2 separate regions of the Homo sapiens genome follow, and region 2 is linked to region 1. Evidence: fine-mapped expression QTL. A gene starts in region 1. The other region holds a variant in brackets. All regions are shown on one strand. Distances are from middle to middle.

Region 1 (5,385 bases):
CGGCCTTTGTAGCTTATATGTCTTGTTTTAAAAGAAAGCCCATGGGTTAGAGCTGGCAAATAGTTGCAGTCATTCTGTAGCTGGGGCTCTGGATTATAAACTGTCACATAGTCCAGGTAGGGGCAGTAGAAGATGGTTAAATAGTCATTTAGTTTCTCCTTATCCCTCTCAAAGGTAGTTTCTCCCTTCCACAGCCAGTCTATAAGAGATGAAAGTGACTATGAGTTTTTTTCCCCCTCTAATAATGTCTCATCACTTCTTGGATTTTAGTTCCTCTAGTGCCTTTAGCCCCTCAGTTCTTCGATAGTTTTTTGTTGTAAGTATGATTTGGTAGCTTATCTAGCTTGTTTTTACTTACTTTGAGACAGGGTCTTGGTCTGCACCCAGGCTGGAGTGCTGTGGCGCCATCATAGCTGACTGCAGCCTTGATCTCCTGGGCTCCAGCAATCCTTCCCCCTCAGGCTCCTGAGTAGCTGGGATAGCTGGGATTACAGGTATGCACCACCACACCCAGCTAATATTTTCAATTTTTAGTAGAGATGGGGTCTCACTATGTTGTCCAGACTGCTTGTTCTTATTAGGGTGGGAACAAATGGTCTTTTGAAAATTTCTATATCCAAATCAGGAGAAATTGCAACATGTCCATTTGTTTTCCTATTTTCAGACATTGTTTTGTTTCCTCTATCAAAAGCCGTATCTCCTATCAGACAACTCTCCTACAACTATAGCTCTTGCCTGGCTTCTGTAACTGTTCCCTTAAATCACCCCCTTAGTCTTAGGGGTAATTAGAACTTCCTGCTCTTACTATCTCTGAGCTGCCTCATCATGCTTTGTTGGTTTCCTTTTCTTTTTGAGACAGAATTTCACTCTGTCACCCAGGCTGGAGAGCAGTGGCGCGATCTTGGCTCACTGCAACCTCCACCTCCTGGGTTCAAGTGATTCTCCTGCCTCAGCCTCCCAAGTAGCTGGGATTACAGGTGCCCGCTACCACGCCTGGCTAATTTTTGTAGTTTTAGTAGAGACGGGGTTTCACCATGTTGGTCAGTCTGGTCTCAAACTCCTGACCTCAGGTGATCCACTACCCTCGGCCTCCCAAAGTGCTGGGATTACAGGTGTGAGCCACCGCACCCAGCCGGTTTCCTTTAACTTTGTCCACACTTTTGAAAATAGTCCCTTTTTGAAATTCTTCTCAGTTATGCTATTTGAACGAGTCATCTCCTTTTTGCTGGGACCCTGACTGATAGGTGGTACTTCTCTGGGAAAACAAAGTGATTCAGCCTATAGGGAGATAGTGAAGATATTATGCAGAAGCCAAAGAGAGAGTTGCAATAGTTGGTTGAGTGATAGTTGAAGTGGTACTAATGTTGGTGACACCCAGGAATGGGAAGAGAATGAATAGATTTCCCTGCCAATGCCTCATCTTTTGTAAACCTCTGGCTATTAAAAAGGAAAGTTGAGCATCATCAAAGCATTGTTTGTGTTTGAGGATCATTTTCCAGGTTAGTTTTTGAAATATTTCTAGCTGTATATAAAAGGTTAATGTGGAATAGAAAGCCTAACAAATTAATGAGGTCTTGTTGGTATGGTGGGGTCAGGGGAGGGAAGGAGAGGCTGGAAGAGGGAGCAGAGAATTCTAAGAAGACGAATTATTTTAATCAGCTGCAATGTTTAATTTAATTTAATACAATTTAGCATTTGCAATTACATAATTTACTCCGTATGAACCTTTAGGTTAGATATAGTATTGTAAACTTGCAAATCTCTTTATAAAACCTTTTTCTTTGGTAGAAACTACTATGAAGTAAATAAACCTTTATTGCCTTCGCTTAGTGCCTGGAACACAGTAGGCCTTTACAAAATGTCAGATCTATGAATACTAGCTGACATTTATTGAGGCCTTCCCCTGTGCCAGCCACTATGCAAAAAGTGCTTGACATACTTCTAAAATCTCAATTTATAGGTGAGGAATTAAGGATACAAGATGCATTTCTATAGTAGAGAAGCAGTAAACTGATAATGAATTAATTGAGGTGAAGTCTGAGTTATTTGAAGATTTTCAGTTATTTTTGTGAAAAAATAAGTTTATTGAAATTCACGACCAGAACACAAAAATAATCTCTCTTGATTTTCTTTTTAAAATTTTTTAAAAAACTTTTGTTGACACGTAGCAGATGTATATATTTACGGGGTACATGAGATGTTTTGATACAGGCATGCAATGTGAAATAAGCACATCACGGAGAATAGGGTATCCATCCTCTGAAACATTTATCCTTTGAGTTACAAACAATCCAATTACATTCTTTAAGTTATTTTAAAATACACAATTAAGTTCTTATTAACGATTGTCACTTTATTGTGCTATCAAATAGTAGGTCTTATTCATTCTTTCTATTTTTTTGGACCTATTAACCATCCCCACCTTCTCCCGCTCTTGATTTTCCTTTGCATGCATGTATTCATAAAGTTTATTAGTATTTTGCAAATCTTTGTAGGATAAGTCTGACCTGTCCAGGTCACAATTATAGGGCACATATCTTATTTTCTGAGAGAAGCAGGGATTTTATTTTATTTTTTATTGTTTCACTTATTTTCTCCCTTTCATTTGCCTCTACTTCGTTCTCTTTTAAATCTTTCACATGTTTTCATTCATTACTTGCTTCCTGCCTTCCTTCCCTCAAACAAGGCCAGGTGCTTAGTTTTGAAATCTCATTCAAAATGGTGCCACGTCATCTGCCAGGGCCAAGAATCCAGAGGTGCTGTCATATTTCTCCTTGCCAGCGTGGATCTCCTCCGAGCCCCGCCCTCCCTCCTCACCTGCTCCTGGGGAAACTACACCAAGGCCGCCGCTCTGGCCTGGGGCTCCCTCCCACACGGCCTTGGCCCTCTCCCCCTCGCCCCGGGACCGCTCCGCCCCTCCCGGATCCCGGTCGGCGGAGCGCATTTATTTGCATATTTCTACCTTTGTTCCCTGCCAGCGGCCAATCAGCGCGCGGGGCGAGACGAAGGGGCTGGGCGGGGCTCGGGCTCCTGCTCCGGCTCAGCTGCGGCGGCCGCAGGTTCCAAAGCGGGTCCGAGCCGCCGCCGCGCGCGCGCCGCGCACTGCAGCCCCAGGCCCCGGCCCCCCACCCACGTCTGCGTTGCTGCCCCGCCTGGGCCAGGCCCCAAAGGCAAGGACAAAGCAGCTGTCAGGGAACCTCCGCCGGAGTCGAATTTACGTGCAGCTGCCGGCAACCACAGGTTCCAAGATGGTTTGCGGGGGCTTCGCGTGTTCCAAGAACTGCCTGTGCGCCCTCAACCTGCTTTACACCGTGAGTATCCCCAGTCCGTTCCTGCTCGCTTGGGGGCTTTGCACCTGCTTGGGAGCTCTTTGGCTTCCCTGCCTGGTCAGCGACTCACTCGTTGCATCCCGCGCCCCCTTCCCGGCTTCCCACGTCTGCGCGCCCCCGGCCTCACCATCCGTCCCCGCCGGGGACCGGGCGCCGGCGCTTGTCGCAGTCTCTTCCTTTCGTTCATTGTGAAGCCGCGGTCTCTCAGGCTCGCTGGCCGCGTCTCTGCCACATTGCTCCACCCCGCCCCCTCACCCACCGCCTTGTTTTTCAAACATTCAACCGGACCTCTCCGCTTTCCCACCCCGTACCCTTCTGCCGCTCGCTCCTGACATCCAGACGCATCTGGGCCAGGCGTGGAGGCGCGAGAGCCGTCAGGGCTTGCGGACAGTTTTGCGGAATGGCGTGGCCTGAAACTGACGAGGCGGCATATGGCTGGTGTGCCTCTGGGTTAGCTCTTGGTACCCTCGGGATTTTAATTGAGGCCACTGAGTAGGTTCACAGGATGTCCGCTGCTTCCGAAGTTTGTTTCGTGCTCACAGTAAAGGGATGTCTTTTTGTTTTTGTTGTTGTCAGTTTTGCTAGTACTTGGTGCTTTTTCTGTGTGTCTTGTCCATGATCAATATCCTAACTCCATTTTAAACCAAGTCCTCCAGGAAATAAGCGAGCCCCCACCCAAGTCGTTTCTTTCCCTGCCAACCAGCTTGGGCCTCTTAGTTTTAACGCTGCAGGCTCTCTTTGTGATTTTTTGAGGCGCAATTCTGGGTGAACAGGAGGATGGGCAGGACAGATCGACATTTATTGAATGCCTATCACGTCCCAGGTTTTACATACACAATGCTCGTTCATCATTCTGACAACCTTCTGAGGGAATGGGGCATTATCTGCATTTTATACATAAGGTAACAGACCAAAAAGGTTTTAGTAAGTTTACATAGCTGGTAGTTGACGAGTCAGGAGTGGAACCTAGGCTGTGGAATCCAGATCTTTCCACAGGCTGTCTCTACCGGGCGGAAGAAACTTCCTCTTCTGTCATCATCCCTCCATAGTAGTCTTGCTCCCTTCTATAAATATACCTGGCGCTTTGCAGCACCCACCCTGAAAACAAACCCAGCACCCCTGCATTAGCAGAGAGCTAGGCCATCTGTGCAAGCTTAGATTACCTCCTTGGAATAGAGAGGCTGCCTTGTGGTCACCAACAGGAGAAGGAGGTTGGGTCATTTTACCTTTACTGTTCCTTTGTATGTGAACATGACTGCAAGCTTTGAAGGCAAGACAGAAACAGGCATTGAGTACGCTTTTATGGCTAGTTAGTAAGAATCTGGTCAACATGGTCATTAATAGTAGACTTGGGAAAAAAATTTTAGAACACCTGGTGATACAGTTCCTTGGAGATACATGTCAAGTTTCAGATCAAAATTCATCTGTATCACCCTGAGGTATGCTTATCACCCTGGCTGTTTATTAAGTAAATGCTGACCAGTTCTCTAGGGTTTTTTTTTTTTTTTTTAAATCAGTGTGAGTGGCCTGCTTGGAACTTTAAATTCCTTATTTTGTGACCTGAGTTCTGTTTTTTTTCTGCCAATGATTTAGTCATCTGTTTGCCAGACACTTAGTCTTACAGTGCCTGCTTACACAGAGTGGAATGTCTACTTTGCATACTTACTTCACTGAAGGGTCTATATCAATGTATAATCTTTTTTAAAAAGGCAAGTTATTTTAAAATGAAGTTCCTTGCTTTCTAGACATCATTTTTAGTTGTATTTAGAGTATATCAGGAAAGTGAGGCGAAAGAAAGGTGATTCTAAAGGGACATATTAAGACTATTTAATATCTATTCTAAATTATTGACCTTCAAAGTGTGTGTTCTATTGATTTTAATAGCTATGCAGTAAAACTTAATGAATTGGAAATTCACGGGACAATAAAAATGGCTAGCCCTTTTAAATCATAGACTTTTTAGACAAAGGGACATTTCTTAAAATGAATTAGTGGCTGCTTGCTTCTTTTACATTGTAAATAGGCTTAAATAACTGCAGCAGTTTAAAGTGGAGGC
Region 2 (5,385 bases), 40 kb before region 1:
AGGAAGGAAGGAGGGAAGGAAGGAAGGAGGGAAGGAAGGAAGGAAGGAAGGAAGGAGGGAAGGAAGGAAGGAAGGAAACGACTACCTTAAAAATTATCATAAATCTATATCATGAAACAAATTTTTTTTTTTTTTGCTGTGAAACAAATTGCCCTAACATTTAGCAGCTTTAGACAATAAACATTTTTTAAACATTTTTTCTGCCATAGTTTCTGTAGGTCAGGAATCTGGAAGCAGCTAAGCAGGGTGGTCCCATGATATGCATTTCTAATCTATGACTCGAACAGTTTTAGAATACTACTTGACATTTTCTAGCACGAAGTATTTTTCCCAAACAAAACTTGAGATAGCGATTTTAAGTTAAGGTAAACTAAAAAAGATGTTAATAATATATTGTTCAAGGAAAAATGCAAGTTTTAAAGAATGTTTTTTTCATCAAAAAAGTTATGTGTATGTATACCTTACCCTTATAAATACATAAAAGAGAAAATATTATCTAATAATTGTTATAAATGTTATTTCTGCATGTATCTTGGACAGTGATGGGACGAAGAAAGGGAAATAATAATTTTTCTTTTTACTCTTCACACCTATTTAGATTTCTTTAGAGTATCTGATACATTCATAATTTTAAAATTAATGTGCTTATTCTATATTATTTTTATATCCTGCTCCTTAATCATACTCTGTATTTTTACAATATCAATAACTATTCTTCAAAAACATGATTTTTGAACATGTCATTGTTCTTGGTCCAGAAGGGTCACAATTTATTTAATTATTCCAGAATTCTGTATAAGGTATCTTTAACTTTTTGCTTTTAAAAACTAGCATTTAAAATATACCTTTATATAAATTTTTCTTCATCTATGGTTATTTAGAAAAAACATGGAATTTGGCTTAAAGGGTTTGAACATTTTAACACAATGTGATGTCACTTTCTGGATTTGCATGTATACTTTTAAATACATTTTACTCCCATTTTGGGCATAGTTCAAGGCAGTATCATTTCAGTAAGAAATTTAAAATTATGTTAGTGTCTAAAAATAGAACGCTACACTTCGAAACTTCTGGAATTCAGCAGTTTCCAATTTGCAAAATTTTGTTGGGGTAGAGGGAAATAAAAATCTTTCATTTGCAAACCAAGAAACCAACAATCGTGAAACATATCATGTCTTGCATAGTCATAGAATTGTTTGGCTTGAGACAATGTGCGTCCCATTACTAATTTCTAAAACACCTCCCAGCTCATGCTGATTCAGTGTTTCTGACCACATCTTCTCTGAACTAATGGTAATTATTTCCTTTCTGCTCTCTGTACTTTTGAGAAATGATAGACTTCAAAGTCCCTCCTGGTATACCCTACACCCGGTATATACCTTGGTACACCTTTTCTTGTGGAATAAATGGGTGTAAAATGTTTCTTCCACATAAAACACCTTTTTAGAACTAATCTTTGCATGATTGAAACCTTTACATCTTGGTTTTATGTGCGTTTTAACTATTTTATTGACATACAACATATAGAAAAGTGCATCTAAGTCTTTGGCTTGAATGGAAATAGCACACCTGGGTAATCAGCGATCCAGTGAAGAAATTGAACGTTAGCCTCCTCCTACCTCTCCCAACCCCAGCCTCCACCCAAGAAATCATGATCCTGGATTATTTTTGCCTGTGTTTGAAATGGATGCATTTAATATTATTTTGTTAATGTCTTCTTTTACTCAACCTTGTTTTACCTTTTTTGTTGTTCTTTGTGTTTAGTTGTTTTCTGGTGTGTGATTAAGTAGCCACAGTTGACCTAGCAACAATAATGCCCAGCTCCTTCAGCAGGAACAGGTGAAATGAGAACATTATTTTTTAATGAGCCTGAATGTTGCACTATGTTCTTGGCAGAGAATAATTTCTAGGTACATATCTGTTTTTCAGAGATAATCTTTGGAGCACATGGTTTTCCTCATCATAAAAAAAAAAAATCATCCGTGTCTTCTCTGGAAAAGTAGTCACATCTTTATGGGCAAGATAGATTTTTTTTAATGAAATCATAAACGACTGTGGCTTCAGTCCTTTGGACTTCTTCCCACATTTGACTTTTGCTGCTGTTGTAAGTGAAGGGGTAGAGATAGGAACTTGGAATTGATTGGCTTGAGTGCGAAGACCCCATTCTGCCATTTAATTTGCTGTTAAACTAATTAGCTAGTCACTTAACTCTTGGTATTTACTTTGCTTAATTGTAAAAATAAGAGCTTGGACAGGATTCAGCCTTGAACCAATAGTGTGAGCCACCCAAAGTAATCTGCAAAACTCTGTTTTCATCAGATAGTCAGTGGTCTGTGACCTAAGGAAAGTAAAATATGACTGGGCTACCTTGCTGATCCTCAAACTTCAGCATGCATCAGGATCACCCAAGGGTTTGTTACAGTTGATTGCACCCCTGCCAG[C/T]CTGTGTCTGACTCAGTAGGGCTGGGGTCTAAGGATTTGCATTTCTAACAAGTTCCCGGATGACACTATTCTGTGTCAGAACCACACTTGGAGAACTGCGGGGCCGAATGGTTACTAAGCTCCATTTCTGTGCTGACTTTCTGAAGTCCGTTATGTCTTCAGTTAAGGAGACAGATTGTATTTTGTTCAACTCTGTATCTGCAATTGCCATATAGCGTAGCACATAGCTTGGCAGGAAGTTGGTGTCCCGTAAAGTTCGAATGTCTAAGTGAGTGAATGTGCGTTAAGAAGAATACCTTTTTAGGCCAAAGGTGGTGGCTCACGCCTGTAATCCCAGCACTTTGGGAGGCTGAGGCGGGCGGATCACAAGGTCAGGATATCGAGACCAGCCTGGCTAACATGATGAAACTCTGTCTCTCTTAAAAATACAAAAAATTAGCCGGGTGTGGTGGCGGTTGCCCGTGGTCCCAGCTACTCGACAGGCTGAGGCAGGAGAATAGTGTGAACCTGGGAGGCAGAGCTTGCAGTGAGCCGAGATTGCGCCACTGCACTCCAGCCTGGGTGACAGAGTAAGACTCCGCCTCAAAAAAAAAAAAAAAAAAAAAAAAAAAAGAAATCCTTTTTAAAGAGTTGATCAAAAATTCATCCTAAATTTTTCCTATACCTTCTTTAACAAGTTCAGCATTGGAGCCACAGCCTGACTGCTACTTCATGAGAATTTGGATTAATGCACTAAACAACGACACATCATTATTGATTGTGTCATTCCCTGGAACAGAGCCAATACACTGTGGGCCCATAATTTATTTATAAAATACTCCTGACACTTTCTCTTATTATTTGTTTTCAAAGGAAGCAAAAAGAACTTTACTGTGAGGATTGTCTAACCAGGCTCTGTAACAATGCCAATTATTCTTTTTTAAAAGTTGTTACAAATTTTTATATATTTAGGGAGTACAAGTGCAGATTTCTTAGGTGCATAGATTGTACAGTGGTGAAGTCTGGGCTTTTAGTGTACTCACTACCCAAATAGCATACATTGTACCCGACAGGCAATTTCTCACCCCTCAGTCCCACCCCTGCCTTTCGTAGTCTCCAGTGTCTATTCTTCTACTCTATGTCCCTGTGTGCCCATTGTTTAGCTCTCACTTGTGAAAGTGAAAACATGTGATATTTGACTTTCTGCTTCTGAGGGTTTTTTCCCATAAAATCCTAAAGTTTTTTTTTACTTTTTAAGTATTTTCAAGTATTTTTATTTTGTATTTTTAAAAATACTTTTCAGCTGGGCACAGTGGCTCACGCCTATAATCCCAGCACTTTGGGAAGCCGAGGTGGGTGGATCCCCTGAGATCAGGAGTTTGAGACCAGCCTGGCCAACATGGTGAAACCCCGTCTCTACTAAAAATACAAAAATTAGCCAGTGTGGTGGCTCACACCTGTGGTCCCAGCTACTTGGGAGGCTGAGGCAGGAGAATAGCCTGAACCCGGAAGGCAGAAGTTGCAGTGAGCCAAGATAGAGCCATTGTACTCCACTCTGGGTGATAGAGCCAGACTCTGTCTCAAAATAAAAAAATAAAATGAAATAAAATAAAACACTTTTAAAGTATTTTAAGAGGCACAGGAGAGTGGGAAATGTCTCAATTCAAATAGTCTTGATTTTTTTATTATTATTATTTTTTAGTCCCCAGGGAAGAAGCAGTCCTTGATGTTTTACAACCAACTAAATCCTTTGAGGAATCTTAGACCTTTTCGTAGCATTATCTTTTCTTTTTAGCAGGAAATCCTCATGGTTTTCTGAGTGTAGTCTCCAGACTGGCAGCATTGATATTCCCTGGGGGCTAGCTGGACATGAAGACTGTCAGGATCCCCCCAAGACATGCAAAATCAGAAACTCTGGGGGTGGACTGAGCAATCTATTTTGACAAGCCCTCCTGGTGATTTGGATGCAAGCTTGGGCTTAGGAACACTGACCTAACCCAAACTTCAGGTGTCAAAACATCTTGGAACACATTCCCAAGGGGACATAAGGGCAAGCAGACAAGAACTGAGGCAGGACCAGGCTTTGGCACAGGATAAGGGATTAGTGAGATGGTAGATTTCATTTTTCCTGAAAGCTGATTAAAACTGGCAAATATCTCTGGAGAAAGATGTCCTGGCATCCTTCAGTGGGTTTTACCTGATGTAAGAGGATAGAAGATGTTAGTGCCCTATAGCCGTATGACAGCTAATCTGAACTCATTCCCAAGTGTGTGGGAACACAGTGAAAAGTATAGTCCTAAAACTGGTCTTTCTTGATTTTTTTATCTTAGTGAGCAATAAAGTGAAAATGTATTTGTTTTTTTTTTCTTTTTTCCAGTGTGCTCACCAACAATTACAACCAAACAACAATTTTTGTTGTAGTACCAAAAAACAACTTTTCTAAATACAAGGAAATCTAAGAGATGACTATTTACAACATATCTAAAACTTTCAGAGAATAGAGAGTAACACAGGTGCTACAGAGTAGGGAAAGATGAATTTTCTGTGTATATGCTTCTAGCAGCCTAGATAGGAGAGTACCAGGCTAACTAGCTTGCAACAAAGGATTTTAAAATTCTGATGCTGAGGATAAAATAGCAGATGAGATATTTGATCATGTATCTTGCTTTGGACCAACCTTAAAGTTTTTTCATGGATTTTAGAAAAACTGTTCACTTTGGCCTCTAGCGTTTTGTTCAAATCACAACCTGTTTCACGTCATAACTTGTACCTGCTAAATGGCTTTGAAATATTTTGAGCAATGACAATGGCCAATGAATTATTTACGAGTGCATTGTATAATTTTCATATATTTGAGTTTTAAAATATGTGGTTTTAATTACTTTCTAGTTTAATTTCATTGTGGTAAGAGAACATAAATGGTAAGATTCCAAAGCTTTTAAATTTATTGAGACTTGTTTTATAG

The links. PIP is the estimated chance that this variant, and not a neighbour inherited with it, causes the effect. A credible set is the group of variants that fine-mapping cannot tell apart.
Region 2: its variant is the best candidate, but not a certain one, in a credible set for the expression of TSPAN13 in whole blood (INTERVAL, PIP 0.71).

Annotation. Positions count from the first base shown.
Region 1 is chr7:16,750,720-16,756,104 of GRCh38, forward strand. It overlaps TSPAN13 (tetraspanin 13), which reads left to right and starts at 3,036. Exons shown (of 6, transcript NM_014399.4): 1 at 3,036-3,311. The coding sequence starts at 3,249.
Region 2 is chr7:16,710,676-16,716,060 of GRCh38, forward strand. No RefSeq gene overlaps it. Among named protein-coding and RNA genes, the nearest start is that of TSPAN13, 40 kb to the right of the region's middle. The variant C/T (reference allele first, on the strand shown) is at 2,442.